Linked DNA regions of Homo sapiens: region 2 is linked to region 1. Evidence: fine-mapped expression QTL. Tissue or cell type: whole blood. Region 1 holds a variant in brackets; the other region holds the start of a gene. All regions are shown on one strand. Distances are between the middles of the regions. Region 1 has its middle 28 kb from the start of TMC7. Region 2 holds the start of SMG1 (SMG1 nonsense mediated mRNA decay associated PI3K related kinase).

Region 1 (15,260 bases):
TATATATAAAATTGGCTGCGCCCAGGGTCTCACTCCTGTAATCCCAGCACTTTGGGAGGCTGAAGCAAGAGGATCACTGGAGCTCAGGGATTTGAGACCAGCAACATAGTGAGACCCCATCTCTAGAAAATATAAAAAACCAGTTTGGCATGGTGGTGCACAGCTACTTGGGAGTCTGAGACGGGAGGATCACTTGAGCCTCGGAGGTTGAGGCTGCAGTGAACCACGATCACACCACTGTACTCCATCCTGGGTGACAGAGTGGGACCCTGCCTCAAACAAACAAAGCAGTGAAAGGAATGTAAAGACATCCTCCAAAATTCTCATTTTCTCATTATGATGCTTCAATGCTTTTATCCAACTATTAAATATCAAATTATTTCTAAATAATTTGGGGGTCTCCCCTGTTTTGCTACTGGCCCTAAACTCTATTGGGTAATCCAGCCCTGATACAGCTCATTTCCTTAGCAAACATTTATTTGCTCAACGAATATTTACATGTTGATATTTGCCAAGTGCCAAGCATTCTAAGAAGACAAAAGTTACCTAAAAAAAAATAATTTTATATATATATATATATATATATATATATATATATATATATATATGCCTTCAAAGAATTTACACGAGGGGTCAGGGAAATGACAAGCAAATTTCATTCTTGTAAAAACGAGCCCAGAGCCATCAGTACGTGGGGGATTAAGTGGCTTCACCACAAAGACACAGACTTGCTGGGACTTGAAGAGAAGCTCGTCTGCCAAGTAGGTGAGGGAAAGAGGAAAGGAATGCCTGGCAGAGTACAGCTGGGTGAGCGGGGTGTGCCCTCGAGTTCTGGGAGCTAGGTGTCACCCTGCTTGGGCAGGCTGGATCTGTAGTTAGAGGTGGAAAAGTGGGCAGAGACCAGATCTGGGGGCTTCCAAAAAGCTCCTTCTTAGCCGGGTGCAGTGGCTGACGCCTGTAATCCCAGCACTTTGGGAGGCCGAGGCAGGCAGATCACTTGAGGTCAGGAGTTGGAGACCAGCCTGACCAACATGGTGAAACCCTGTCTCTACTAAAAAAACAAAAATTGCTCAGGCTTGGTGACGGGCACCTGTAATCACAGCTACTCAGGAGACTGAGGCATGAGAATCTCTTGAACCTGGGAAAGGGAGGTAGCAGTGAGGCGAGATCATGCCACCACACTCCAGACTGGGTGACAGACTGAGACTCTGTCTCAAAAAAAACGAAAGCCTCTTCTCATAAGTTTACTCTACGTGAAGGTAACCGAGATGCTCTTAGGCAAGGGAGGCTCCTGGTCAGAAATAAGTTGTTTGGGAACACGAAATGTCCCCTGGCAGCTTTGGAGGAGGCCGGACTGAAGGCAACTGGACCAGATCCAGGGCTATTGCTGCAAGGAAGGCGTGACCCAGAAAAGGAGCAGAGGAAGGCATGGATTTGCCAGAACATGGAGGTGGAACCGACAGGACTTACTGATTGATCATAGGTCCGGGAGCATGAGAAGGAGGAGGCAGGCTGATTCCCAGGTTCTAGATGGTCACTGGGAGGATCCTGGGTCAGGAAACCAGGCAAGGAGCTGCAGGAGGGAAGAAGGAGATGACCATTAGGTCTGGGACCCACTGAGTCCCAGGGCCTGTGGATGTCCAGGTAGAGATGGCGAGTCAGCCACTGTGTGGGCAGAACTGGAGTTCTAGAGAGAGGATGGGTGAGAATAAAAGCAGGGACTGTGCTGTGGGTTTGAGTGTCCAGGCAGGAGACAATGGAAGGACTGCAGCAGTGAGATCACCTTTGCAAAAATTATGACAGGGAGAAAAATCTGATATAGTTGATTCCATCTTGCTCCTTTTTTTTGTATACAATTTTTTTTTTTAATTAACTGGACATGGTGGCACACCAATAGTCCCAGCTACCTAGGAGTTCAAGGATGCAGTGAACTGTGATCACACCACTGCACTCCATCCTGGGTGACAGACTGAGACCCTGTCTCAAAAAAAAAGAATAAAAGTAAAAATAAAAAATAAAAAGAGCCTGCACCCTCCATCTCTCTCTTGCTTTCTCTCTCTCCATGTAATCTCTGCACACAGGAGCTCCCCTTTCCCTTCCACCATGAGTAGAAGAAGCCTGAGGCTCTCACCAAATGGCTAGTCTTCCAGCCAGCACAATCATGAGCCAAATACGCTCTTTTCTTTACAAATTACCAGTCTCAGGTATTCCTTTATAGCAACACAAACAGACTAAGACATTCCTGTACAGAAAGTCTGCCAACTGCTGATCTAGGAAAACTGACTGTGGCATCTGCTCCCTTAACCACTGCCCTAGACTGCCTCTGGGGCCCTCAGCTAGCAGTGATGATAAATGCTGGTGTGTTTTGACCCTCCAACAAGATGCATCCTTTGGAGAGAAGGGACATGACCCTTCTTAGGTACAGTTTTTTTTGTTTTTGTTTTTTGTTTGTTTGTTTGTTTTGAGATGGAGTTTTGCTCTTGTTGCCCAGGCTGGAGTGCAATGACACAATCTCAGTTCACCACAACCTCTGCTTCCTGGGTTCAAGCAATTCTCCTGCCTTAGCCTCCTGAGTAGCTGGGATTACAGGCATGCGCCACCATGCCTGGCTAATTTTTTTTTTTTTAGATGGAGTCTCGCTCTGTCGCCCAGGCTGGAGTGCCGTGGCAAATCTCAGCTCACTGCTATCTCTGCCTCCCGGGTTCAAGTGATTCTCCTGCCTCAGCCTCCCAAGTAGCTGGGACTACAGGCACGTGCCACCATGCCTGGCTAATTTTTGGTATTTTTAGTAGAGATGGGGTTTCCCCATGTTAGTCATGATGGTCTTGATCTCCTGACCTCGTGATCCACCGCCTCGGCTTCCCAAAGTGCTGGGATTACAGGCGTGAGCCACCGCACCCAGCCTTAGGTACAGTTTTTATAGTAATATATTTGGATTTTATTAATGAACATTTGTCTCAAGAACTAAACAGTAATGTAACAGCTAAAATGTGATGCATAGAAGACAATATAGGAGTAAATCTTTGTAACTTTGGGTGAAGCAAAGCCGTCTTAGATATGACACCAAAACACAAATGACAAAAGAAAAAAATAGGGCTGGGTGCAAGTGGCTCGTGCCTGTAATTCCAGCACTTTGGGAGTCTTGCTTGAGCCCAAGGAGTTTGAGACCAGCCTGGGCAACATGGCAAAACAAATCTCTACAAAAAATACAAAAATTAGCCAAGCACGGTGGCATGCACCTGTAGTCCCAGCTACTAGGAAGGCTGAGTGAGAAGGATCACTTTAGCCAAGGAGGTTGAGATACAGTGAGCCGTGATTGCACCACTGCACTACAGCCTGGGTAACAGAGCAGGACCCTGTCCCAGAAAAGATAAGAAAAAAAAATTGATAAATTGGACTAAAAAAAGTAGTGATGCTGGGCATGGTGGCTCACACATGTAATCCCAGCACTTTGGGAGGCCAAGGCGAGCGGATCACGAGGTCAGCAGATAGAGACCATCCTGGCTAACATGGTGAAACCCTGTCTCTACTAAAAATACAAAAAATTAGCCGGGCGTGGTGGCGGGCACCTGTAGTCTTAGCTATTCGGGAGGCTGAAGCAGGAGAATCGCTTGAACCCGGGAGGCAGAGGTTACAGGAAGCCAAGATTGCGCCACTGCACTCAAGCCTGGTCAACAAAGCAAGACTCCTTCTCAAAAAAAAAAAAAAAAGTAGAGATGTCTAGGCCTCACCCTCAGAAATCCAGATTTAAATGAGTTGCAGCAGAATTCAAGCATCTGTATATTTCTAAAACCTTCACATTGATTCCAAGTATAGCACCCACTGCCTCTTTTGGCAAATTACATGTATTTATCCCTGGATTACTGCACACACTTCCTGATGGATGGTAGATTTTGAGCTGCTCTCAGTCTGAAAGTCAACTCACTTAATCTGTTCCTGTGCCTGCCACAAAGCTGAGCTGTTGACTATAAATAGCCACAAAAGACTGGAGTTTGTTCTCTTGTTCATGAACCCTTCTAAGTGTTAGATACTGTCATCCAAAGACCACCAAGATGACTAAGTAACAGGAGAGTTGTATTTGGTGACATCAGTTCACAAACCAGGAAGAGACAGTCTCCTGAATGTGTGGAAGCTGCTCTCTCTTTGACGGGAGAAAGGGCAGGCTGGGTTTTATGCCTTACAGGGCCTGTATTACACAATGGAATCATACATATTCAGCAGGTTTGGGGAAAAGACTACGCATATTTATGAGGGGAATTAAGTACATGCACAATGGGTAAACATATGTGTAACATACATCCCATGTTCACATTGGGGTGGGGTTTTAGCAATAAAATGAGGTGGAATTTGGCTCTCTGTGTCAAAAGGTGAGCTATAGGACACAAAGACAGTTTGTGTGCAGTCTCTATAAGCCGGCTGAAACTGCTTAAGGTCTGCAGTTGCTCATCAGAAGACAATGTCTATAAGGTCAGTCCTCTGTCCAATCAGAGTTGTAGCAGTCTGGGTATAAATCAAAGTTAGGAGGGGTATGATAATTTGCCTTGACATCTCCTATTGTGAGGGAGCTTAGCAAGAGTGTAGTTATTCTTGCAGCCATAGGAATTTAGGAATTTAGGAAGGAATTCATGCCAGCCAATACCTAAACCCGTGACCTGTAGGTAATTTTTGTTTCCTTAACCTTAAAGTCCATCTTTTTTTTTTTTTTTCTTAGATGGAGTCTTGCTCTGTCACCCAGGCTGGAGTGCAGTGGCACAATCTCAGCTCACTGCAACCTCCACCTCCTGAATTCACGCCACATGCCATTCTCCTGCTTCAGCCTCCTGTAGCTGGGATTACAGGCACGCCCCACCATGCCCAGCTAATTTTTGTATTTTTAGTAGGGACGGGTTTTCCCCATGTTGGTCAGGCTGGTCTCAAACTCCTGACCTCGGGATCTGCCCGCCTCGCCTCCTAAAGTGCTGGGATTACAGGCGTGAGCCACTGCACCCGGCAGGGTCCATCTTAATCAAGAGGAGTCTGTTTTGGGCTCTCAGATGACAACACAAACACTTCCTCTTGTCTGGACTGAGACAAGATCCTAATAACTACTTGCCCACAAGATGGGAACACAGCAGGAACCAGCTGTGGGGATTTGGAAAACAGTCCAACAGCAATTTTTTCCACACAGCACACTATTCTGTTCAGAATCTTGAACCTGGCTATAGTTAAGGGAGCCGCACCCACAGATATAAGCCAACTACCTAACTCAGAGATCTTCAGTAGCTTCTCTTGGCCTTCACCATGGTCTGCGTAGCCTGGTTCATTGCAGCAGTCAGGGCTCAATGCAGAAATACTATGAGCTATGGGATAAGAGAGTTACTCTAGGAATTAGACCTTACAGAATCATAGGAGAAGCTGGGGAAGGGACAGACTAGGAGGAAAGTTGGAGGCTCAGAGGAGGTACTGGCCAGTCCATCTGAGTAGCCAGGCACATTTAGTCACTGAAAGAGGATGGCCAAGGGAACGCTCTATGGTAACCTGTGCCTGTATGTAGCTACTACCACCAAGCACCTGGTGGTGGGCCTGGGGCTGTGTTGGTCATCAGGGTCAGAAGTCAGGAGAAGAGCTAGATGCAGAGGACAGCAAGGACAAACTGGAGCCCACAGGTATCTGTGTCTATTGCCACATCTAACCACAGTGGCCTTGGGGGATGGCTGCTGCTCACTTGCACCTGCCTCTTTCAGCCAAGTCTAACTGTGGCTAGAATCCCTGAAGACATAATTTCAAGCTAGAGTCTCCCTCTGTCACCCAGGCTGGAGTGCAGTGGCATGATCTCGGCACACTGCAACCTCTGCCTCCCACGTTCAAGTGATCTTTGTGCCTCAGCCTCACAAGTGCTGGCCACCATGCCCATGTTTTTTGTTTGTTTGTTTTTTTGAGATGGAGTGTTGCTCTGTTGCCCAGGCTGGAGTACAATGGCGCGATCTCGGCTCACTGCAACCTCTGTCACCCGAGTTCAAGCGATTCTCCTGCCTCAGCCTCCCAAGCAGTTGAGATTACAGGCACACACCACCATGCCCAGCTAATTTTTGTATTTTTAGTAGAGATGGGGTTTCTCTGGGTTGGTCAGGTTGGTCTTGAACTCCTGACCTCAGGTGATCTGCCCGCCTCGGCTCCCAAACTGTTGGGATTACAGGCGTGAGCCACCGTGCCTGGCCAAAACTTTTTTATTTTTTGAGAGAGAGAAAGAGAGAATTTTACTCTGTCAACAAGGCTAGAGTGCATTGGCACAATCACAGCACACCATGGCCTCAACCTCTTGGGCTCAAGTAATCCTCCCACCTCAGCCTCCCAAAATCTGTGATTGCAGGGGTGAGCCACCATGCCCAGCCTCCCATATAACTTTTGACTCCCCCATAACTTAACTACTAATAGACTACTATTGACCAGAAGCCTTACTGATAACCTAAAGCCAATTAATGCATGCTTTGTTTTGTTTTGTTTGTTTGTTTTTGAGACTGAGTCTCACTCTATTGCCCAGGCTGGAGTGCAGTGGTGTGATCTCAGCTCACTACAATCTCCACGTCCTGGGTTCAAGTGGGAGGCTGAGACAGGAGAATTGCTTGAACCCAGGAGGTGGAGCTTGCAGTGAGCCAAAATTGTGCCACTGTACTCCAGCCTGGGCTACAGAGCAAGACTCCGTCTCAAAACAACAAAAGTCTTCACCTCCTTGTCTTCACATTGAGGAGGCTGAGAGGAGGTGGAAGAGGAGGGGATGGTCTCGCTGTCTTAGTGATACAGGAGATAGAAAGAAATTATTTAGGCAGACAATGACGGCAAGAGAGTCCTCAGTAGAACTTCCCTTCTAACAAAAAAAAAAAGCCCAAGAAATCACTTTCTAAAAAGGAGCAGCCTGAAAGATCAGGCTGCAAACATAGATA[G/A]GGAAACTGGAAGCTTGCACGGGGGAATGCCGGCAGCTGCATGAATAGAAAGGACGACCCGGGGCCAGGCAGGTCCACCGTGGGGGCAGCTGCATGGATAGAAAGGACGACCCGGGGCCAGGCAGGTCCACCGTGGGGGCAGCTGCATGGATAGAAAGGACGACCCGGGGCCAGGCAGGTCCACCGTGGGGGCAGCTGCATGGATAGAAAGGACGACCCGGGGCCAGGCAGGTCCACCGTGGGGGCAGCTGCATGGATAGAAAAGACGACCTGGGGCCAGGCAGGTCCACCATGGAGGCTCCACCTTCCCTTTTTTGTTAGCACATGCGCAGTGTGAAAGAAATAAGCAACATGGAGTAGCTCAGGCAGAGGATACACCTGCATAATAAACAATTGAAGTGGGGGCTGCCAGAGATTCAAGCCCTATGCATACGGCACACCTGGTCCTAACCAGTTTTCCGTGCCCTGTGTAGATCAAATACCGCCTCCCACTAGCTCATCTGTAAAAACCCTTGCGATTCACTGAGCTTCAGCAACCCATTTTTCCAGGACCCCTCTCTGTAGCAGGGAGCTATTCTCTTTCTTTCACCTATTAAATTTCTACTCTAAACCTCACCTTTTGTATGTGTTCAAGTCCTTGATCTCTATGGCCATGAGACCAAGAACCTTGGGTGTCACCCCAGACATTAAGGCTGCTTCATTAGGGGTAGCAGAGGTGGAAGCAAATCCACATAGAAGTGGACACCTGCTCAGTTCAAAGCCGTGTTGTTCAAGGGTCCGCTGTGTGTAACTATTGGTTCCATTTATTTGTAGAACCCTATTACTCCCTCTCTCCTGCCTCACTTTATTTTATTTTATTTTGTTACAGAGTCTCACTCTGTTGCCCAGGCTGGAGTGCAGTGGTGCAATCTCGGCTCACAGCAAACTCCACCTCCTGGGTTCAAGTGATTCTCCTGCCTCAGCCTCCCAAGTAGCTGGGATTACAGGTGCCCACCACCACACCTGGCTAATTTTTATATTTTTAGTAGAGACGGGGTTTCACCACACTGGCCGGGCTGGTCTCGAACTCCTAACCTCAAGTGATCTGCCCGCCTCGGCCTCCCAAAGTGCTGGGATTACAGGCGTGAGCCACCTCACTCTTCTTTCTGCTCTCAGATGTTGCCACATTCTTTCACACTTCAGGGACCCTTTTTTTTGAGATGGAGTCTCACTCTGTAACCCAGGCTGGGGTGCAGTGGCATGATCTCAGCTCACTGCAACCTCTGCCTCCAGGGTCCTGATTCAAGCAATTCTCCTGGCTCAGCCTCCCTAGTAGCTGGGAGTACAGGAATGCACCACCACGCCCAGCTAATTTTTGTATTTTTAGTAGAGATGGTGTTTCACCATGTTGGCCAGGCTGGTCTTGAACTCCTGACCTCGTGATCCACCCACCTCAGCCTCCCAAAGTGCTGGGATTACAGGTGTGAGCCACCACACCTGGCTGAGGGACCTTTGCTTCTATAATAGCTGATAATCTTTTCCCCCTCACCAAATCTCCATCTAGCCCCTTCTTCCTCATCCCCTAAGACCCAGCTAATGTCATTTTCCTTGGACTTCCACTATAAATGATACCCTAGATATTTTCTCTCACATACACAATTGGGATTGTACATATGCAACACAGAGACAAGTTCATAACACAGCTTTGGGTTATACATTGACTTACTTGCAGTTATCTCTTTCTTGTGCCAGCTCTGAAGCTCCTTGAGGGTAAGGAGTATGTCTATTTTATTCACCATTGCATATAGTAGGTACCTTAAAACATATTTATTAAATGAGCAAAGCAGCCTGACGCAGTGGCTCACGCCTGTAATCCCATCACTTTTAGAGGCCAAGGCAAATGGTATCACTTGATCTCAGGAGTTTGAGACCAGCCTGGGCAACATGGCGAAACCCCATCTCTACAAAAAAGTTTCCTAAAAAATTAGCTAGGATCGGCCATGGTGGCTCATTCCTGTAATCCCAACATTTTGGGAGGCCGAGGCAGGTGGATCACCTGAGGTCAGGAGTTTGAGACCAGCCTGGCCGACATGGTGAAACCCCATCTCTACTAAAAATACAAAAATTAGCCAGACATGGTGGCACGCACCTATAGTCCCAGGTACTCAGGAGGCTGAGGCAGGAGAATCATTTGAACCTGAGAGGCGGAAGTTGCAGTGCATTCCAGCCTGGGCAACAGAGCCAGACTCTCTCGGGGGAAAAAAAAAAAATTAGCCAGGTGTGGTGGCATGTGCCTGTAGTCCCAGCTACTTGGGAGGCTGAAGTGGGAGGATTGCTTGAGCCCAGGAGGTTGAGACTGCAGTGAGCCTATATCGTACCACTGCACTCCAGGCTGAATGACAGAGCAAGACCCTGTCTCAAAAAAAAGAAAAAAAAAAGAAAATGAGCAAACCTAGTCATTTTGAAGGCCAATGTTTGACATGTATTTTAGAGAGAAAACAAAATTGGTCCCTTGCCTAATATATGGTGGTGTTTTGCTATATAATTTATGGTCTACATGTAACAAAACAAAAGAAAGCAATATTTAAAAACTGCCAGGAGGCAAAAATTAGCCTTACCACACACCAATCCTGCCTGGGTTCCCTCCAGGGCTGGAAAAACCATTTAGAAGCAATTGCTGAAATTTTGTTTGTAGCCTAATTAAATAACCAGCTCTCACCAGGAGTTTTAATGGCCAGCCTAAGAGGTCCAGAAAGTTTTTAAGGCTTAATGACCTGCATACACTCTCAGCCCTACAGGATTCTTTAATATCTGCATAATTTTCTCTGTGGGAATGCTTTATCTGAATAGACTGTTTTGCTTTAGAAAATATTTTTGCAAACTCTAAGAAAATATTCCAGACAAGCCATAATCCCAATGATAACAGAGCTTCCTACTGCAATACATGAGTTAATGAACACAAAGAGGTTTGTGGAATGCCTGACCTATAGCAGGTGCTTAATAAATGGTAGTTGCGGGGGCGCAGTGCCTCAGGCCTGTAATCCCAGCACTTTGGGAGGCCAAGGCGGGACCTTGGGATCACCCAAGGTCAGGAGCTCAAGACCAGTCTGGACAACGTGGTGAAACCCGGTCTCTACTAAAAATACAAAAATTAGCTGGGCATGGTGGCGCACGCTTGTAATCCCAGCTACTCAGGAGGCTGAGGCAGGAGAATCGCTTGAACCTGGGAGGTGGAGGTTGCAGTGAGCCGATATCACGCCACTGCACTGCAGCCTGGGCGACAGAGTGAAAACTGTGTCTCTAAATAAATAAATAAATAAATGGTAGTTGCCTTCCCACATCTCAAGGGCTATTTAAAAATCCTACCTATTAGCCGGGCAGGGTGGCATTTACCTGTAGTCCCAGCTACTTGGGAGACTAAGGTGGTAGGATCGCCTGAGCCCAGGAGTTCGAGGCTGCAGTGAGCTATGATTGTGCCACTGCACTCAGGCTGGGTGACAGAGCAAGACTCTGTCTCTTAAAAATATATATATATATATATTCTTATGGGAGCCAGATGGGAGAATGTTCAATGTCAGGAATGTCCCTAAAGAGACCAAGCTTGTTGCTCCAAAAAGTTATTTCTGAATCAGCGTAATGTTTTCTCCAGTTTTTACTTCACATTTTGCATTTAGAAAGGGAGAAAAGATGGCCAGGCACAGTGGCTCATGCCTGTGATCCAGCACTTTGGGAGGCCGAGGCAGGTGGATCACCTGAGGTCAGGAGTTCGAGACCAGCCTGGCCAAAATGGAGAAAACCCCATCTCTACTGAAAATATAAAAATTAGCTGGGCGTGGTGGTGGGTGCCTGTAATCGCAGCTACTCGGGAGGCTGAGGCGGGAGAATCACTTAAAACTCAGGAGGTGGAGATTGCAGTCAGCCAAGATTGCACCATTGCACTCCAGCCTGGGAGACAAGAGCAAAACTCTGTTTCAAAACAATTAATTAATTAATTAGTTAATTTAAAAGGAGAAAAGAAAAAAGCATGCTGATTTACAAATAAGCTTCAAGATGAAGCAGAGGTAAGGCCCAGAAGCTGTTTTTAAATATTTATTTTCTAGCCTGGCCAACATGGTAAAAGCCCAGCTCTACTAAAAATACAAAAATTAACCAGGCATGGTGGTGCACGCCTGTCATCCCAGCTATTCAGGAGGCTGAGGCAGGAGAATCGCTTGAACCTGGGAGGCAGAGGTTGCAATGAGCTGAGATTGTGCCACTGCACTCCAGCCTGGGTGACAGAGAAAGAACCTGTCTCTAAATAAATAAATAAATATCTTCCCCCAGGAAATTTCCTTTACTTACCTATTTAATTTCTTTCAGGGGCATTTTCATAACCAGTAGCCTGAGTTAAGTGGCACTTAAAAAAAAACAAAACAAAACAAGGTCTCAGTCTGTTGTAGAGACTGGAGTACAGTGGCCCAATCATAGCTCATTGCAGCCTTGAACTCTTGGGCTCAAGCAATCCTCCTGCCTCAGCCTCCTGAGTAGCTGGGACTGCAGGTGCATACCACCATGCCCGTCTAATTTTTAAAATTTTTTTTTGTAGAGATGAGGTCTTGCTATGTTGCCCAGGTTGGTCTCAAAATCCTAGGCTCAAACCATCCTCCCTCCTTGGCCTACCAAAATGCTAGGTTTTTTTTTTTGTTGTTTGTTTGCTTTGAGACGGAGTCTCGCTCTGTCACCCAGGCTGGAGTGCAGTGGTGAAATCTCGGCTCACTGCAAGCTCCACCTCCCGGGTTCACACCATTCTCCTGCCTCAGCCTCCCAAGTAGCTGGGAATACTGGCACCCGCCACCAAGCCCGGCTAATTTTTTGTATTTTTTTAGTAGAGATGGGGTTTCACCGTGTTAGCCAGGATGGTCTCGATCTTCTGACCTCGTGATCCACCCGCCTCGGCCTCCCAAAGTGCTGGGATTACAGGCATGAGCCACCGTGCCCGGCCGCAAAATGCTAGGATTATAGGTGTGAGCCACCATGCCCTCATAAGAAAATTCTTACTCCTTGGACCATATCTTGGTGTCTCTATAGCTATAGCTCAGTTCTTCTACCCTTGGGATAAAAACTAAGGTGGTTAAGCCATGATACTGTAAAGGAGTCATGGGATTTTACTGACATAAAGGTGATGTTCTACCACTGTTCTAACTTAGGAAATCTGCAGCATGCCCAGGCACAGGAGTTTACCCTCCCATCAGCACCACCCTCTGAGGACAAGCCCCATCACCCTCTGCTCTAGAGAGGTGGCAGTTGTCCTGAACTATGGCGGAGGCAGTTGTCCACGTGGAGTGGATAGATTGGAGAGCTGGCAAGTCCTGTGGCATAAATAGAGGACCACAGGCTGGCTACAGTTGGTAGACACTTCTCCCCAGGTGGCAAGAGAAGGATGGCCAATGCAGCGTCTGGACACTGACAATTTATACTTTCTTAAGTGAAGATCAGTGGCCTCCCCTTGGTCTTCCCTTTGGTAACACAGCTGCTGTCTATGAGGTCCCTCACCTCTTCATCAGCCCACAGGAAGTGGTTCTTTTTTTTCATCTATATAATTGTGTTTCTTTTTTAAGTTTTTCTTTTTCTTTCTCTTTTTCTTTTTTTGAGACAAGGTCTCTTTTTTTATTTTTTTATTTGTATTTTATTTACTTATTTATTTTTGAGACAGAGTCTCGCTCTGTCGCCAGGCTGGAATGCAGTGGTGCAATCTCAGCTCAATGTAATCTCTGCCTCCTGGGTCCAGGCGATTCTGCTGCATCAGCTTCCCGAGTAGCTAGGACTACAAGGCACGCACCACCACACTCAGCTAATTTTTTGTATTTTTTTAGTAGAGAGAAGGTTTCACCATGTTGGCCAGGATGGTCTCGATCTCTTGACCTTGTAATCCACCTGCCTCGGCCTCCCAAAGTGCTGAGATTACAAGCGTGAGCCACTGCACCCAGCCACAAGACAGGGTCTCATTCTGTTACCCAGGCTGGAGTGCAGTGGTGTGATCATGGCTCATTGCAGCCTCAACCCCCTGGGCTCAAGTGATCCTCCTGTCTCAGCCTCTCCAGTAGCTGGGACTATAGGCACACACCATCCCACCTGGCTAGTGTTTGTTTTTTTGTTTGTTTGTTTGTTTGGTTTTTTTTTTTGGAGATGGGTTATTGCTATGTTGCCCAGGTTGGTCTTGAACTCCTGGCCCCAAGTGACCCTCCTGCCTCAGTCTCCCAAAGTGTTGGGATTACAGGTATGAGCCACTGCACCCAGCCTATAACTATTTTTCTATTTATTTGAAGCACAGTTAAAAAAAAAAGGTATACTTTGGAAATTCAGTGACACAAGTTACACTGCCATAACTGAGAGATATCATACAGTTAAAAAAATTAAAAAGTCTCTCTGAACCTATTCTGGTTCAGGAGTCTGCTCAATAAAAATAATAATAATAGGCTAGGCACTGTGTGCTCATGCCTGTAATCCCAACACTTTGGGAGGCTGAGGTGGAAGGATTGCTTGAGGCCTATGTGTTCAAGACCAGCCTGAGCAACATAGTGAGGCCCCATCTCTACAAAAACATTTTTTAAATTAGCAGGGCAAAACTGGGTGTGGTGGTTCATGCCTGTAATCCCAGTACTTTGGGAAACCAAGGTGGGCAAATCACCTGAGTTCAGGAATTTGAGACCAGCCTTGCCAACAAGGTGAAATCCTGTCTCTACTAAAAATACACACAAAAAAATTATCCGGGCATGGTGATGTACACCTGTGGTCCCAGCTACTCGGGAGGTGGAGGCAGGAGAATCGCTTGAATCTGGGAGGCAGAGGTTGCGTGAGCCGAGATCACGCCACTGCACTCCAGCCTAGGTGACAGAGAAAGACCCTGTCACAAAAAAAAAAAAAAAAAGGAAGAAAGAAAGAAGGAATGAGAAAAACAAAAGAGCAGGGTGAGGTTGTGTGCAACTGTAGTCCCAGATACTCAGCAGGCTGAGGTGGGAGGAGGATCCCTTGAGCCTAGGAGTTCCAGGTTGCAGTGAACTATAATACTCTCAACCTGGGCAACAGAGTGAGAACCTGTCCTCCCTGCCAAAATAATAATAATAATAATAATAATTGTTCTCCCATTTTGAACACTGCATTACATAATTTTACCTGCCCAAGGAAGTATTTCTGAAAGTGTGATCACCAGAACTGGCAGATTCAGCCACACTTCTTTTTTTTTGGGACGGAGTTGCGATCTTGTTGCCCAGGCTGGAGTGCAATGGCATGATCTCGGCTCACCACAACCTCCCCCTCCCGGGTTCAAGCGATTCTCCTGCCTCAGCCTCCTGAGTAGCTGGGATTACAGGCATGCACCACCACGTCTGGCTAATTTTGTAGTTTTAGTAGAGACGGGGTTTCTCCATGTTGCTCAGGCTGGTCGCGAACTCCCGACCTCAGGGGAGGTGATCCACCTGCCTCGGCCTCCCAAAGTGGTAGGATTACAGGCGTGAGCCACCGCGCCCAGCCACACTTTGTTAAAAATACAAATTCTTGGGTGGGTGAGACCACCCTTGCCAACAAGGTAAAATCCTGTCTCTACTAAAAAAAAAAAAAAAAAATTGGCTCATGCCTGTAATCCCAGCAGTTTGGGAGGCAGGAGGATCGCTTGAAGCCAAGAGTTGGAGACCAGCCCGGGCAACACAGCAAAACCTGGTTTCTAAAAAATAAAAATATAAAAATAAAAACTTAGCATGGTGGCATGTGCCCGTGGTCTCAGCTACTTTGGGAGGCTGAGGCAGGAGGATCACTGGAACCCAGGAGTTCAAGGCTACAGTGAGCTATAATGGCACCACTGCATTATAGCCTAAGCCAGATTCTCAAGCCCTACCCAGACCTGATGAGTCGGAAACTCAGGAGGGTGGATCCCAGCGATCTGTGTGGTTTTTTTGTTTGTTTGTTTTGCTTTGTGGGTTTTTGGGTTTTTTTGTAACAAACTCTCCAGGTAACTTTGTGTACACAAAAGTTTGAGAGTGACTGCTCTAGTCTAAGGCAGTGTATCTCAAACTTTACCTCACACTAGGATTTCTTTGGCAGCTTTGAGAAATTCTAATGCTCAGGCTTCAATCACACTTAATTAAATCAGAATCTGGTGATAGGACTCAGGCATCAGTAGTTTTTACACATCCCGCAGGTGATTCAAGTGGGCAGGAGAGTTTGAGAACCAGTGTGGTCTAGTACGCGCAGCGTCACCATCCCCTGGGTGCCCGGTAGAAATGCAGAACCTCAGGCCTGGCACAGTGGCTCACGCCTGTAATCCCAGCACTTTGGGAGGCCTATGCAGGTGGATCACTTGAGCCCAGGAGTTGGAGACTAGCCTGG
Region 2 (14,969 bases), 27 kb after region 1:
GAAAATACAAAAATTAGCCAGGCATGGTGGTGTGCACCTGTAATCCCAGCTACTCTGGAGGCTGAGGCAGGAGAATTATTTGAACCCGGGAGGCGGAGGTTGCAGTGAGCCGAGATCATGCCACTGCACTCCAGCCTGGGCAACAGAGGGAGACTCTGTTTAAAAAACAAACAAATAAATAAATAAAAGTTAATCTCATCCAAAAATACCCTCACAGACTGGGTGTGGTGGCTCATGCCTTGTAATCCCAACACTTTGTGAATCTGAAGGAGTAGACTCGCTTGAGCCCAGGAGTTTGAGACCAGCCTGGGCAACATAGTGAGACCTTGTCTCTACAAAAAATTAAAAAATTAGCTGGGCATGGTGGCACACACCTGTGGTCCTAGCTACACCTGAGGCTGAGGGAGGAAGCTCACTGGAGCCTGAGAGGTCAAGGCTGCAGTGAGCCATGATTGCACCACTGCACTCCAGCCTGGCTGACAAAGCAAGACCCCGTCTCAAAAAGTAATGAAAAAAAAAATATCCTCACAGACACACCCAGAATACTGTTCAACCAAATATCTGGGCACCCTGTGCCCCAGTCAATTTGACACATTAAAATTAACTGTCACAATATCCTTCCAGCCTTTTCCTATATCTATATAACATTACATAACATATATATAGATAGCTATAAGTCTATTTCTTTTCTTTATTATTATTATTTTTAAGATAGGGTCTTACTCTATCACTCATGCTGGAGTGTAGTGGTGCAATTTTGGCTCACTGCAACCTCCACCTCCTAGGCTCAAGCAATTCTCTCACCTCAGCATCCTGAGTAGCTGGGACTACAGGTGTGTACCACCATGCATGGCTAAATTTTTTTTTTTTTTTTTTTTTTTTTTTGTAGAGACAGGGTTTCTCCATGTTGCCCAGGTTGGTCTTGAAATTCTGGACTCAAGTGATCACTCACCTTGGCCTCCCAGAGTCCTGGGATTACAGGCATGTGTTACCAGGCCCAGCTGGTGTATTTCTCTTCTTTTTCTTCTTCTTCTTTTTTTTTTTTTTTTTTTGTGTGTGTGAGATGGAGTCTTGCTCTGTCATCCAGGCTGGACTGCAGTGGCATGATCTCAGCTCATAATAACCTCCACCTTCCGGGTTCAGGCGATTCTCCCACCTCAGCCTTCCAAGTAGCTGGGATTACAGGCACCTGCCATCATGCCTGGCTAATTTTTGCATTTTTGTAGAGACGGGGTTTCACCATGTTGGTCAGGCTGGTCTCCAGCTCCTCTGTGGGAGGTGGGGGGATTGCTTAAGGCATGGAGCTCAAGATCAGTCTGGGCAACATAGAAAGACCCCATCTCTGGGCGGGCAGGGTGGCTCACGCCTGTAATCCCAGCACTTTGGGAGGCCGAGGCGGGCAGATCACGAGGTCAGAAGATGGAGACCAGCCTGGCCAACATGGTGAAACCCTTTCTCTTCTAAAAATACAAAAAATTAGCCGGGCATGGTGGCAAGTGCCTGTAATCTCAGCTACTCAGGAGGCTGTGGCAGAAGAATCGCTTGAACCCGGGAGGTGGAGGTTGTAGTGAGCTGAAATCGTGCCACTGCACTCCAGCCTGGGCGACAGAGTGAGACTCTGTCTCAAAAAAAAAATTAATAAATAAAATAAAAAGGCTGGACATGGTGGCTCACACCTGTAATCCCAGCACTTTGGGAGACCGAGGTGACTGGATCACCTGAGGTCAGGAGTTCGAGACTAGCCTGGCCAACATGGAGAAACCCTGTCTCTACTAAAATACAAAGTAGCCAGTGTGGTGGCACATGCCTGTAATCCCAGCTACTTGGAAGGCTGAGGCAGGAGAATTGCTTGAATCTTGGATGCAGAGGTTGCAGTGAGCCATGATCACGCCATTTCACTCCATTCCTGGGTAACAAGAGTGAAACTCCGTCAAAAAAAAAAAAAATCCAACTAGCCCAGTGTATGTTGTGGAATACACCTGTAGTCCCAGCTACTTGGGAGGCTAAGGTGAGAAAATCACTTGTGCCCAAGAGGTTGAGCTGCAGTGAGCTGTGTTTGCAGCACTGCAACTCAATCTGGGTAATAGAGCAAGACCCTGTCTCAAAAAAAATAAAAATAAAATAAAAAAGTAAAGAAAAGAAAGAAAGAAAAAGAGAGAGACTGGGCACAGTGGCTCATGCCTGTAATCCCAGCACTTTGGGAGGCTGAGGTGGGTGGATCACCTGAGGTCAGGAGTGCGAGACCAACCTGACCAACATAGTGAAACCCCATCTCTACTAAAAATGCAAAATTAGCCGGGTATGGCGGCAGGCACCTGTAACCCCAGCTACTCGGGAGGCTGAGGCAGGAGAATTGCTTGAACCCGGGAAGTGGAGGTTGCAATGAGCCGAGATCGTGCCACTGCACTCCAGTCTGGGTGACGGACTAGACTCCATCAAAAAAAGAAGAAAGAGAAAAAGAGAAAAGAAAGAAAGAAAGAAAAGAAAGAAAGGAAAGAAAAGAAATAAAAATAAAATTCTTAGTAAGTGGCTGTTATTAGTTTGACACAAAGGTAAAAAAGATGGTATCTGCTTTTAAATTGAGTAGTACAGGGCCAGGCTTTTATTAGTCCCCTTCCATCCCTGATGTTTGCTGGGAGTAAACACTTCCCCAATACTTGTTGATAATTTGGAGATTAGACTATTATTTTTCTACAATCCTATTATTTTCATATCCCTGTTTCCTTTACCTGAGGTGATGTAATACTCAGCCATCTGCTCCCCTTCATCTAAAAACTACCTTAAGTCCTGCTTTATCTGAGAAGCCTCTTCCAGGGACCAGCAGGGAGGGTCCTCTGAGACGTGGTATGCCTGGGGGATGGTGAAAACACTATGCCAAGCAGTGTGACCTTCAAATTATACAGCACAAAACACTTTATGGAATAAGCCTCCATTTGCTTCCCTGGTATGGGATGAAGAAATCATTTCAGCTAAGACATAGATAGCAGTGTCCCAAAGAAGCTAAATGATCCTATTTCAACTAGAAGTTCTGAAGTGAAATATTTATCCTTCCCTTATTTGGTAGTCTCTTTAACTCTTTAGAGTTAAACTTGCTGGGCGCAGTGGATCACGCCTGTAGTCCCAGCTACTCGGGAGGCTGAGGCAGGAGAATCGCTTGAACCCAGGAGGCAGAGGTTGCAGTGAGCCAAGACTGTATTTTTAGTAGAGATTGGGTTTCACCATATTGGCCAGGCTGGTCTTGAACTCCTGACCTCAGGTGAGCCACCCACCTCAGCCTCCCAAAGTGCTGGGATTACAGGCATGAGCCACTGCGTCCAGCATGTTAAATGATAACTGTATAAACAATAGAGGGCAGTAACTTGCTGTTGGGAGATTTTATTTACATAAGTTTGCATTTTATTTACATATATTCCTAATAATGGATTAATCAGGGAAAGCAAAGGAGTTAGCTCCATTAAAATCACCATGCCAGTCCTTGGGCAGCTCAGGACCAAACATAAGGGAATTTCACTTTCTTGTTTTCTCCAATTTAAAAGTTACAAATAGCTTAAGATGAGCATCACCGGCTTCCTATTTTATTGTTGAAAGAATGCACGAGCCACTGGGCAGCACTTCTTGTGCCCTGATTCATAGAATTTTGGCCCCTGCCTCAAGCTGAGACTGCCCAAGTGGAGATTTCAAATGTGTCATGAGGTTTCTCAGCCAAATTCCTCCTGCACCAGCTTGAAAAATCGCTATAAAAATAGCCCTTACTGAGGGAGCCTGACCTGTGACAAAGATTTCCTAGCTGGGAGCAGGAACAAGAAGGCTGCTGTTTTTCTTTTTGAAAAATCTGCTTTAATGTCTTTATGATGTGGATTTGCTTTTAAGATTGCATTTTAAAAATCACCCATGTAAGTTGAGTCTCCTGGTTGAGAATAAAGTTCCTCAATTCTTGGTGCCTAATAGGGGTTAATCCTGGGCCAGACATAGGGTCAAAAGAAAACAAAAGAGAGAATTCTCTTTTGTTTACTTAGAGAATAAATGTCAGTACAGTGTCTCTCTAGGAAGTTTGGAAGATTTCTAGGAAAATCCTGGTGATGAAAGACCCTGGGGTTGGTTTGTGTTCGAATCCTTACTGGAAGATCTTTTAGGAGTTAAGACAGGATCACGTTACTCACAGTTTTTGAGGTTCTGAGTGTATCAAAAATTTAAGAAATAACAAAGAGCATTCACAATTTGTACTATATTTTGTTTCCTTTTTATGTTTTGAACACTTTTAACACAAGGGGAAACAAACTATGAAGCGATGTAATTACATGTTCACCAGGTAATAATATAATTTATTAGGAAGTATGAATGCCATGCACAGCCTCTACAGGTGTGTGAGCTGGTAATGGACATAGTTTGTTAACTTCAGACTTCCTTCCTGTTCGAGTGTCTCTGGGACTCTGGGTCTAACTTCACTAGGCGATCACGTCAAAGGTCTAAATCTGACGCCTTTGACGAATGTGGAGTTGGGGCCAAATGTCCCTTCTGTCTCTGCCTGTGACATTCCCTTCCTGGCCCTGCCTGCTACCAGCTGGGTGACCTTGTGCAGGGAGCTAGCTTCTCTTGGTATCACAGCCCCAAAGTGTAAAATGCCACATTGAAACCTACCTTAGCTTGGTTTGGGGGAATTCCTTGAAGTAACAACTCATATTGATCATTTGACTGAGTGGTTTTGCATTAGTAAATGCTCAATAAAGGCCGAGTGCCGTGGCTCATGCCTGTAATCCCAGCACTTTGGGAGGCTGAGGTGGGCAGATGACCTGAGGTCAGGAGTTCGAGACCAGCCTGGCCAACATGGCGAAATCCTGTCTTTACTAAAAACACAAAAATTAGCTGGGCATGGTGGCACATGCCTGTAGTCCCAGCTGCTCGGGAGGCTGAGGCAGGAGAATTGCTTGAACCTGGGAGGCGGAGGTTGCAGTGAGCCGAGATGTTGCTACTACACTCCAGCTTGGGCGACAGAGCAAGACTCCATCTCAAAATAAAATAAAATAAAATAAAATAAAAAATAAATGCTCAATAAACATTAGGTAGAGTTGGTCACTATTTTTAGAGCTAAGACTTGATGTCTTGGCTAAAGTTTACTCAGTTGGTCTGTCTGAGTCACTGCCACACTCTAAGAGTATTCATTCTCTGTTCATTCATTCAACACCTATTTATTGAATGCTTACTTTTAGCTTTGTAAATTTTTGTTTTAGGCCGGGCACAGTGGCTTACACCTGTAATCCCAGCACTTTGGGAGGCGGAGGCGGGCGGATCACCTGAGGTCGGGAGTTTGAGACCAACCTGCCCAGCATGGTGAAACCCTGTCTCTACTAAAAATACAAAAATTAGCTGGGCATGGTGGCAGACGCCTGTAATACCAGCTACTCGGGAAGCTGAGGCAGGAGAATCGCTTGAACCCGGGAGGTGGAGGTTGCAGTGAGCCGAGATCGAGACATTGCCCTCCAGCCTGGGCAACAAGAGCAAAACTCTGTCTCAAAAAAAAAAAAAAAAAAAACAAAACTTCACAAATGTAATTTGTAATGGCTGCAGAAAATTTCAGCTCTGAATGTACTGCATCCTAATCAGTTTCCTATTGTTGAGCATTAGTATAATTTCCAGGTGTTTTGTTTTTGTTTTGCTATTAATAAGTAAAACTGAGATGAATACTTCTGTATCAATCTTGATCCTTATTTTAGATAATTTCCATTTCATTCCTCCCATTTCTTGAGTGCTTCCTATGGTCAGGTGCTGTGCTGTGTGCTGAGTATGGAGGAGGTAGGCTGAGATAGATGTGACCTTTGCTCTTGCAAAGCTGATATCCTAAGGGTTGGACCGATGCTAAATATGCAAAGAAACCCAATACTTGCAGATGGTGCTGGGTACTACCAAGGAAAGAAATAGGGTATGTGACAGAGTACCTGGAAAGGGCACTGGCCAGCTTTTATGGGCAAGGGACGTCAAAGAAACCTGTCTGGAGATGAGACAGGCCAGGAAAATCAGGGCAGGGGCCAGAGTAGGGCAAATGTGGTGCCTAGAGCCTCATTTTTTTTTTTAGATGGATTCTCGCCCTGTTGCCCAGGCTGGAGTGCAATGGCAGGATCTCAGCCTACTGCAACCTCTGCCTCCCAGGTTCAAGCAATTCTCCTGCCCCAGCCTCCTGAGTAGCTGGGATTACGGCAGAGCCTCAAATTTAAGGAGGGACTTACTCACAGGATTGTGCAAATGCAAAGTTGGCTTTTGCATGACCCTGGGAGTAGGTGCCTCCTTAAATTTTGCACCCTCAGCAACTCCATCACCTGTCACGTTGCTAGTCCCAACCCTGATGGGAACAAATGCAGGGAAGGCATTCCAGATGGCGGGAACAGCAAGTACAAAAATCCAGAGGCCAGAAAGGCTTGGTGTGTTTCAGGAACAGAAACTCGGCTCCCATGACTGAAATGGAGTAGGGAAATCCTAATGGAACCAGAGAGGCAGAACCACCAACAGGAAGAAGAAAAAAATGTTGGAAGTTATGAGAGTTGCTCACGTTTGATTCATTTGATTAATTTTATTGAAATGGAGTCTCACTCTGTTGCCCAGGCTGGAGTGTAGTGGCACGATCTAGGCTCACTGCAACCTCCACCTCCTAGGCTTAAGTGATTCTCTCATCTCAGCCTCCCAAAGTGCTGGGATTACAGGCGTGAGCCACCATGCCCCACCTGAAGCAATTTCTCTGTTGTCTTTTTTTTTTTAACTTCTCTCATAGAAATAATTAACCCTCAAAAACACTCAGTGTTGACAAAGGGTGGTGTGAGGACACAGAAAGTATCAGACTATCATTGGCAGAAACTTCTGGAAAGCAACTTAACAGTCTGTATCCAAAGACTTAAAATCATTAACAGCCTTTTCCCCAATAACTCCACTTCTCGGAATCTATCCTAAGGAAATCTGCCACAGCCAGAGTGATTTTTTCCGTCCCCTTAAGAAATGGTCTCATCCTGTTGCCCAGGCTGGAGTGCAGCGGCACCATTATGGCTCACCACAGCCTGAAACTCGTGGGCTCAAGCGATTCTCCCACCTCAGCCTCCCAAGTAATTGGGATCACAGGCATGCCTCCATATCCATATGCCTAGATGGATAATATTTTGACCAATAAAGAAAAAGAGGGCCAGGCGCGGTGGCTCACGCCTGTAATCCCATCACTTTGGGAGGCCGAGGCGGGCGGATCACGAGGTCAGGAGATTGAGACCATCCTGCCTAACACGGTGAAACCCCGTCTCCACTAAAAATATAAAAAACAAAATTAGCCGGGCTTGGTGGCGGGCGCCTGTAATCCCAGCTACTCGGGAGGCTGAGGCGGGAGAATGGCTTGAACCCGGGAGGCAGAGCTTGCAGTGAGCCGAGACTGTGCCACTGCACTCTAGCCTGGGCAACAGAATGAGACTCCATCTCAAAAAATAATAAAAATAAAATAAAAAAATTAAAAAGAAAAAGAAAGGTAGTACCAGAGATTGTGTCCAGTTGCTCAAGCAATTTCTAACTTGTCTAATGTAAAAAAATTTTAAATTTTTACACAAAATTAGCCGGGCATGGTGGCATGTGCCTGTAATCTTAGCTACTTGGGAGGCTAAGGCAGGAGACTCGCTTGAACCTGGAAGGCAGAGGTTGCAGTGAGCTGAGATCGCACCATTGCACTCCAGCCTGGGCCACAAGAGTGAAACTGTGTCTGAAAAAAAATTTTAATAATTTTTGTAGAGATGGGGGTCTCACTATGTTGCTCAGGCTGGCCTATAACTCCCAGGCTCAAGGATCTTCCAGTCTCAGCCTCCCATCACTGGAATTACAGGCATGAATCACTTCACCTAAATGATTTTTTTTTTTTTGGAGACAGTCTTGCTCTGTCACCCAGGCTGGAGTTCAGTGGCATGATCTCGGCTCACTGCAACCTCTGGCTCCCGGGTTCAAGCAATCCTCATGCCTCAGCTTCCCCGAATAGCTGGGACTACAGGCGTGCGCCACCATGCCTGGCTAATTTTTGTATTTTTTTGTAGAGATGGGGTTTCACCATGTTTGTCAGGCTGGTCTCCTGACCTCAAATGATCCACCCACCTCGGCCTCCCAAAGTGCTGGGATTACAGGAGTCAGCCATCCATGGTGCCCCTCCTTTTCTTTTTCTTCTCCTCCCTCCCTCCCTCCCTACCCTCCGCAGCCCAGGCTGGAGTGCAGTGGCGGGATCATAGGTCACTGCAGCCTCCACCCGCTGGACTCAAGTCATCCTCCTGCCTCACCCTCCTGAGTTCCTGGGACCACAGGCACGCGCTACCACGCCAGCTAATTTTTGTAATTTTTGTAGTCCCCATCATTTAGAACTGGCAGGATCCTCCCTTAGTGAGGGATTGGTGGCCATAAGCAAGGAGCCCAAGGTGGAGGGGATATGCATGTGTGTGAAGGGGTCAACTCCTCGTAATCTTCAAGTACTTTTGGTAACAATATTTATTTGCACAAGCGATATATAAAGACGTTTTCTTTGCAACATAAAATGATAGGTTATGACTCCTTATGCAGATACGGTTTAGACACTCGTTTAAGGAGCATCCTGGCCCAACTTTTAAAAAACGTGTGTGCATTCACGTTATGCATCAGATGCTTTAGGGAACTTTTTTCCCTGGGGCATGGGACACGTCATGGGGTAGACGGTCGGGTACGTCTCCTCTACCCAGCTGCTGCTTTGTTTTTTTTTTCTTTTTGAGACAGAGTCTTGCTCTGTCGCCCACGCTGGAGTGCAGTGGAGCCATCTCTGCTCACTGTGAGCTCCGCTTCCCGGGTTCACGCCATTCTCCTGCCTCAGCCTCAGGAGTAGCTGGGACTACAGGCACCCGCCACCACGCCCGGCTAATTTTTTGTATTTTTAGTAGAGACGGGGTTTCACCGTGTTAGCCAGGATGGTCTCGATCTCCTGACCTCGTGATCCGCCCGCCTCGGCCTCCCAAAGTGCTGGGATTACAGACGTGATCCACCACGCCCGGCCTTCTCTCTTTCTTTTCTTTTTTCCTTTCCTTTCCTTTCCTTTCCTTCCTTCCTCCCTTCCTTCCTTCCTTTTTCTTCCCTCCCTCCTTTCTCTCTCTCTTTTATTTTTTTGAGACAGAGTTTCACTCTTGTTGTCCAGGCTGGACTGCAATGGTCTGATCTCGGCTCACTGCAACCTCGGCCTGCTGGGTTCAAGCGATTCCCCTGCCTCAGCCTCCCAAGTAGCTGGGATTACAGGCGCCCTCCACCATGCCCGGCTAATTTTTGTATTTTTAGTAGAGGCGGGGTTTCTCCATGTTGGCTAGGCTGGTCGGGAACTCCTCACCTCAGACGATCCGCCCACCTCGGCCTCCGAAAGTGCTGGGATTACAGGCGTGATCCACCGCGCCTAGCCCCCAGCTTCTTTCACCAGCAGAAGGCGGGCAAGCCTCAGGGTGAAAGGACTTCAAAGCACATTTCACATTGCAGAGGACAGGGTTTGGTGATCGTGGGTACTCCCTTCCCTTCCATCGTTTAGTTTTTTTCATTGTGAAGAAATGGTAAAAGGTGCCAGGACTCGATGGGCACATTTCAGGTGGAGGTTGGGAAGGTGGATATCCACCTCTCGATCTTACTATTTTCACTTTCCACCCCACCCCGTAGAAAGTGGGAAAACTGGCGCACGTGAATCCAAGGGCACGCCTGTGTGCGCGCGCACCGCAGGGCACCAGCCCCCACCCACACCGCAGGTCCTTGATTGGACGCCTGTTTACACCTGACTGCCCGGCCCTCCGGTGCTTTCCGGGAAGCGTTTGGGAGAAAAGTGTGTGGCCGCAGTAGTGGAGATCCCCTGTCTTAGGATTCGTCACCGCTACGCCCAGACCTCTTCGCCGCCCAAGGGCCTGGGGACGTGGGGGGCGGGGCGGCCTGCTATCGACCCCGCCTCTCTCGGCTCCGCCCCGCCGACAGGACCCGCCTCTCTCCCCAGGCCCGGCGGGCGCCAACCCCGCCCCTCGCTCCCAGCATGCCGTGCGACAGCGGCGGCGCGGCGGGCGGAGCCGGGAGGCGGGGAAGCAGTGGCCGTGTGAGCGTGAGGAGCTGCCGCCACCGCCTGCTCCTCGTCGTCCTCGTCCTCCGGGGCCCCGGCGACGTGGGCCGCGCACGGCCCTGGAAAAGACGTCGCCTCCCCTTCATCCGCCTCTCTCTCACCGCGCCGCTCCCGCCTCCTCGTCCTGCGCTGCGGGCTCAGGCGGAACCCGGAACGGCCGTCCTCTTCCCCCGCCCTCCGCCGCCTCCTCCTTCTCCTCCTCCTCCTCCTCCTCCTCCTTCTCGGCTTCCTCCTCAGCCCCGGGCCGGAGCGGGGTGTCGGCGGCGGCCGGTTCGGGCGGCGACTCGCGCTTCTTTGGGCGGCGGCGCTTGGCCATGTCGTGTCGGGGAAGGTAATGAGCCGCAGAGCCCCGGGGTCTCGGCTGAGCAGCGGCGGCGGCGGCGGCGGCACCAAGTATCCGCGGAGCTGGAATGACTGGCAACCCAGGTGGGTGACCGGCCCGGGACCCCGCCCCGACCTCCCGGGCTCCGCCTCGGGCGGGCCGAGGCCTAGGGCCGCGGGGCTGGGAGGCGCGGCCTAGGCCCTCCACCCCTCGGAGCCGGGCGCGGCTTCCTGGGTCTCCTCCGCCCCGGCTGGGGGAGGAAGGCCGCGGGGAGGCGAGGCCTAAGTGCCTCCCCTCCCTGCTTGTTCAGCCCGGGGCTGGAGCCGAGACCCGGGGCTCCCGGCGGTGGCACTGGCCTGGGGTCGGGACCAGGAGGTGAGAAAGAGGCGGGGGTGGGGGTGGGGGGCATTCCAGTTACAGCCTCCCCCTGACCCCGAGTTGGGAGATGCTGAGAGTCCAGGACCCTCCCTGTTACTCATTCACTTTCTCGGTTCCCCACTCTTTCAGCCGCCACGTGAGAGCTCTTCTAACCTCTGTTCCTTTCTGTGACCCCCACGTGTTAATATTGAAAAAAACAAAACAAAACTCCAGCTAAGGCATTGCTCTGACTCTAGGCAGAACATTCATTAGTGGAGCATGAGATGAGATTGTGTGACTGTTGATGGGATCGACCCACGCTGGTCTTGGGCGATGGAAGTTTTCCCTAAGTGCAAGGCCGGTTACTCTGGTGAATCGTAATTCATACCTGGACACTTGAGTGAACTCTTTGGGCACCCACTTAGAAGTCTAGAGAATTTCCTCATTTATGGAGGATTTGATCTCAGACCGTTTTGGGGCTTAGTGAGATTTGAATATATTAGGAACATTAACTTTTTAAATAAATGTAGTTTCCTGTCTTTTTGATCAATGGGAGGGCAGCTGTGCCTAATTTAGGACTGATTTATTCTAATCTCTCTTAATAAATGCTTGTATTCAGAGTCTGTTTGGAATTTAACCCAATGCTTAGAACTCCTTAAATATACAGAAATATATTTTAGGGGTAATTGATTCATGGAACTCTCCTACTTTGGAGCACAATTGTTATAATTGTCCAGAAACTGGCCAAATAATGTAGAACGCGCAAGTTGTTGGGAAGCCCTTTTGTTTCCTGATAGTTACATGTAATTCCAGCAGTATTTGGAAATAATTTGCTAAGATGTTAGAATGTAACATTTGAAGACTCGTTAGAAAAATCAATAAAATTATCTTTGGCTAATAGGTGGTACACATCTTAGTCTATTTAATATGCCTTTCCAAATACTGTGTCTGTTGAGAATTGGTGTATATAACTAGATGACTTTAATAATTAGTGCCTGAGTCTAGAATTGAGATGTTTAGTCGTAAAAAAAAAAATATTGTTCGATAAACAGCGTTGACTTGTCTTGTACCACTTAAGAGTTTGTGAGTGCTTTAAATAAAATTAGTTGATTAAGTATTTTTTTCTATGATTGACATGCTTAGTTTTGCCTTTTTATTGAAATGTGTGAAATTTGATTTTCTGGCATCTAACAAATTAGGTGGTAAATAAATGACAATGGATTTTCTATTATTTTTCAGTATTGTGATCAGTATAAGTATATAAGAGAATTTAGTAACCTTTTAGAAGAATAAAGTGCCCTTCCCAAATAGTCCTACAGCTTTTGGAAAAGTGTAAATTGTAGTTGGTAGTTCTAAATAAATAGAGAAGAGTCGCAGCCACGTGCTAGGGCCAGCTGACTTCATTGCTGACAGGTATGAAGCCAAATGGCTTATGTAGTTATGGAATATGTACATGAGCTATTAATAAATATTATCCATGTTGTTTCTTTCAAGTGCTTTATTTCTTGGCTCTGGGGAGGGGCGATGGGGGAAGGGAGGAGCTTACAAGAAAGCTTACAAGGTTTCTTTGAAGCTGTGCTTTTTGTAAGAAAGTTTCAGGATGTAACGCCTTGGTAGACGATACTGTGATATACATTTGGTTATAGGGAGTAACAGTTTGTTAGGATGTTGGAAAGATTTGATTTTCTCCTGTTGTAGAGGGAACAGGGAAGTGTGGACATACCCCATAGCATAACTTGATTTGTTGCTAAGATTGTCATAGCTGATTTGTTAGTCAATAAAAATACCTGGGGTGTTTGCCAAGTCATAAATTTTTATTAGTTAAATTTGAGGTGATTCTGTCCCCTATTCAGAAAGACGACAGACTCCAGGTAACTGACAGAACGGATCTTGATCTTGCTTCTTGCTTAAATGAAGGTTTAGAACATCTTCAGATGCAGGCACATTTATTATGGTTCATCTGAATAATTTTGATTAATTTTTTTTTGCCTCTTATGTACCATTTTGTCCCTGGTGTTTTGGTTCTGTTTTCCTTGATGTAGGCCTTTTTTTTTTCCTTCCTGAGATGGAGTCTTGCTCTGTCTCCCAGGCTGGAGTGCAGTGGTGTCATCTCGACTCACTGCAGCCTCTGCCTCCCGGTTACAAGGAAAAATTCTCCTGCCTCAGCCTCCTGAGTAGCTGGGATTACAGGCGTCCAGCTAATTTTTGTATTTTTAGTAGAGACGGGATTCCACCATGTTGGCCAGCCTGTTCTTGGACTCCTGACTCAGGTGATCCGCCTGCTTTGGCCTCCCGAAGTGCTGGGATTACAGGTGTAAGTCACCGCACTCAGCCGATTTAGGCTTTTGAAAAAGCAACACTTGTTGATTTCTTTTAGTGTTAGTTTGCCAGTTGGTGTGGAAAATGACTGTTGAGTCCATTTTGACCACACATGATACTTCACACATACTGACAGGAAGTGTTGCAGGTGGCTGTATACGTGAATGTCTTATGGCAAGAGAGCAAACCCGTGTTCCATAGAAGCATACCTCCAACAGTAAGCATTTATATGGCACTGGCTTATAGTCTTCCTTTTCATTCACTGTGCTCCCAGTCAACTCTTCTGTAAATTTTTTTGAGAACAGGGTCTTGCTGTGTCACCCAGGCTGGAGTGCAGTGGCACAGATACTTGGCTTACTGCAGTCTCGACCTCCCAGGCTCAAGCCTCCTGCCTCAGCATCCACAAGTAGCTGGGGCTACAGGCGCTTGCCAACAGCCCGGCTCATTTTTGTATTTTTTGTAGAGATGGGGTTTTCACCACGTTGCCCAGGCTGGTCTTGAACCCCTGAACTCAAACAGTCTGCCCACCTTCAGTCTCCCAAAGTGTTGAGATTACAGGTGTGAGCCACCGCACCCGACATTTAAGAATGGTTAAGCAGGCCGGGGGCAGTGGCTCACACCTGTAATCCCAGCACTTTGGGAGGCTGAGGTGGGTGGATCACCCGAGGTCAGGAATTCGAGACCAGCCTGGCCAACTGACATGGTGAAACCCCGTCTCTACTAAAATAAATAAATAAATAAATAAATTAGCGGGATATGGTGGTGCATGCCTGTAATCCCAGTTACTCGGGAGGCTGAGGCAGGAGAATCACTTGAACCTGAGAGGCGGAGGTTGTCCTGAGCGACATCACACCACTGCACTCCAGCCTGGGCAACAGAGCAAGACTCCTTCTCAAAGAATGGTTAAACAAATGAGTGGTCTTAGGTCAGTTGTATTATTTGAAATCTATGGGTTCCTCAAGCGTAAAGTTGAGAAGGTTTTGGGAACCACTGGATGCCTCTGGTTTTTTTCATATGAAGAAACAGGGGTGGTGGCTTCTTAGAACAAAGGGATATCTGACCTATGGAGGTTGCCCTCTTTACTCCTCTTCCCTAAAAAAATGACCTATCATTGCCAATAGCTAAAGTCTGTCATTTTTTCCACCTTAGTTTGGAAGATAATCTTCTAGTATCAATCAAGACAGAGATCAGAATGATGTGTTTTAAAATTAAATGTGTAATTCATAATTGTACATTTTAATATTCTAAAGTGACTGATTAATTTGACATTGGAGTCAAATAGATTGATTAATTCAACAAAGAAGAGAAGGCATTCAAGTCAACAGAAAACAAGTAGATTTTACTTCTCCACTCGGGGTTTTAGGACATTAATTGTGTAATTGGTCTTACTTGTTTAGTAGTAGATCTATATTGAGTGTCTTACTGTGCCCAAACTTAGGATCTTTCTATACTTCTAAAAGGATGAAACTGTATAATAAAAAGACCTTCCAATTTTGGTAGATTGTAGACAGATTAAAGTATTCAAAAGTACACACATCTTCTCTGTTGTGAAAGACCAAGAAATGGAAATGTGTTGTGAAATTAGAAAAGCTGTATACTAGTATGTCTGATGTTGTGAGAAGCTGGATTTTTGAAACCAGAGTTGTCTATTCAGCCTTTTATCAGTCTGTACTAAGTTTGATGTCCATAGGTACATAATACGGGGAAATACATAAAGGATAAAATTAAGTGAAGTTACATATTTTATACCTATTAGGTGGGTGCAAAAGTAATTGCGGTTTTGGCAAAAACCGCAATTACTTTCACACCAGTCTAATATTAAATGGAACTAGAGTCAAATAGAATTCAGTGATTTCCAGTTCT

Evidence for each region.
Region 2: it holds the start of SMG1, and the variant in region 1 is fine-mapped to the expression of SMG1 in whole blood (TOPMed, PIP above 0.99).

What each region holds. Positions count from the first base shown.
Region 1 is chr16:18,948,106-18,963,365 of GRCh38, reverse strand. No RefSeq gene overlaps it. Among named protein-coding and RNA genes, the nearest start is that of TMC7, 28 kb to the left of the region's middle. The variant G/A (reference allele first, on the strand shown) is at 6,921.
Region 2 is chr16:18,921,515-18,936,483 of GRCh38, reverse strand. SMG1 (SMG1 nonsense mediated mRNA decay associated PI3K related kinase) reads left to right here and starts at 10,076. Exons shown (of 63, transcript NM_015092.5): 1 at 10,076-10,534. The coding sequence starts at 10,443. It overlaps SMG1-DT (SMG1 divergent transcript), which reads right to left and starts at 10,297. Exons shown (of 2, transcript XR_001752094.2): 1 at 10,210-10,297. RefSeq lists enhancers at 8,983-9,596, 9,597-10,209, 13,043-13,102 and silencers at 9,895-10,234, 10,265-10,854.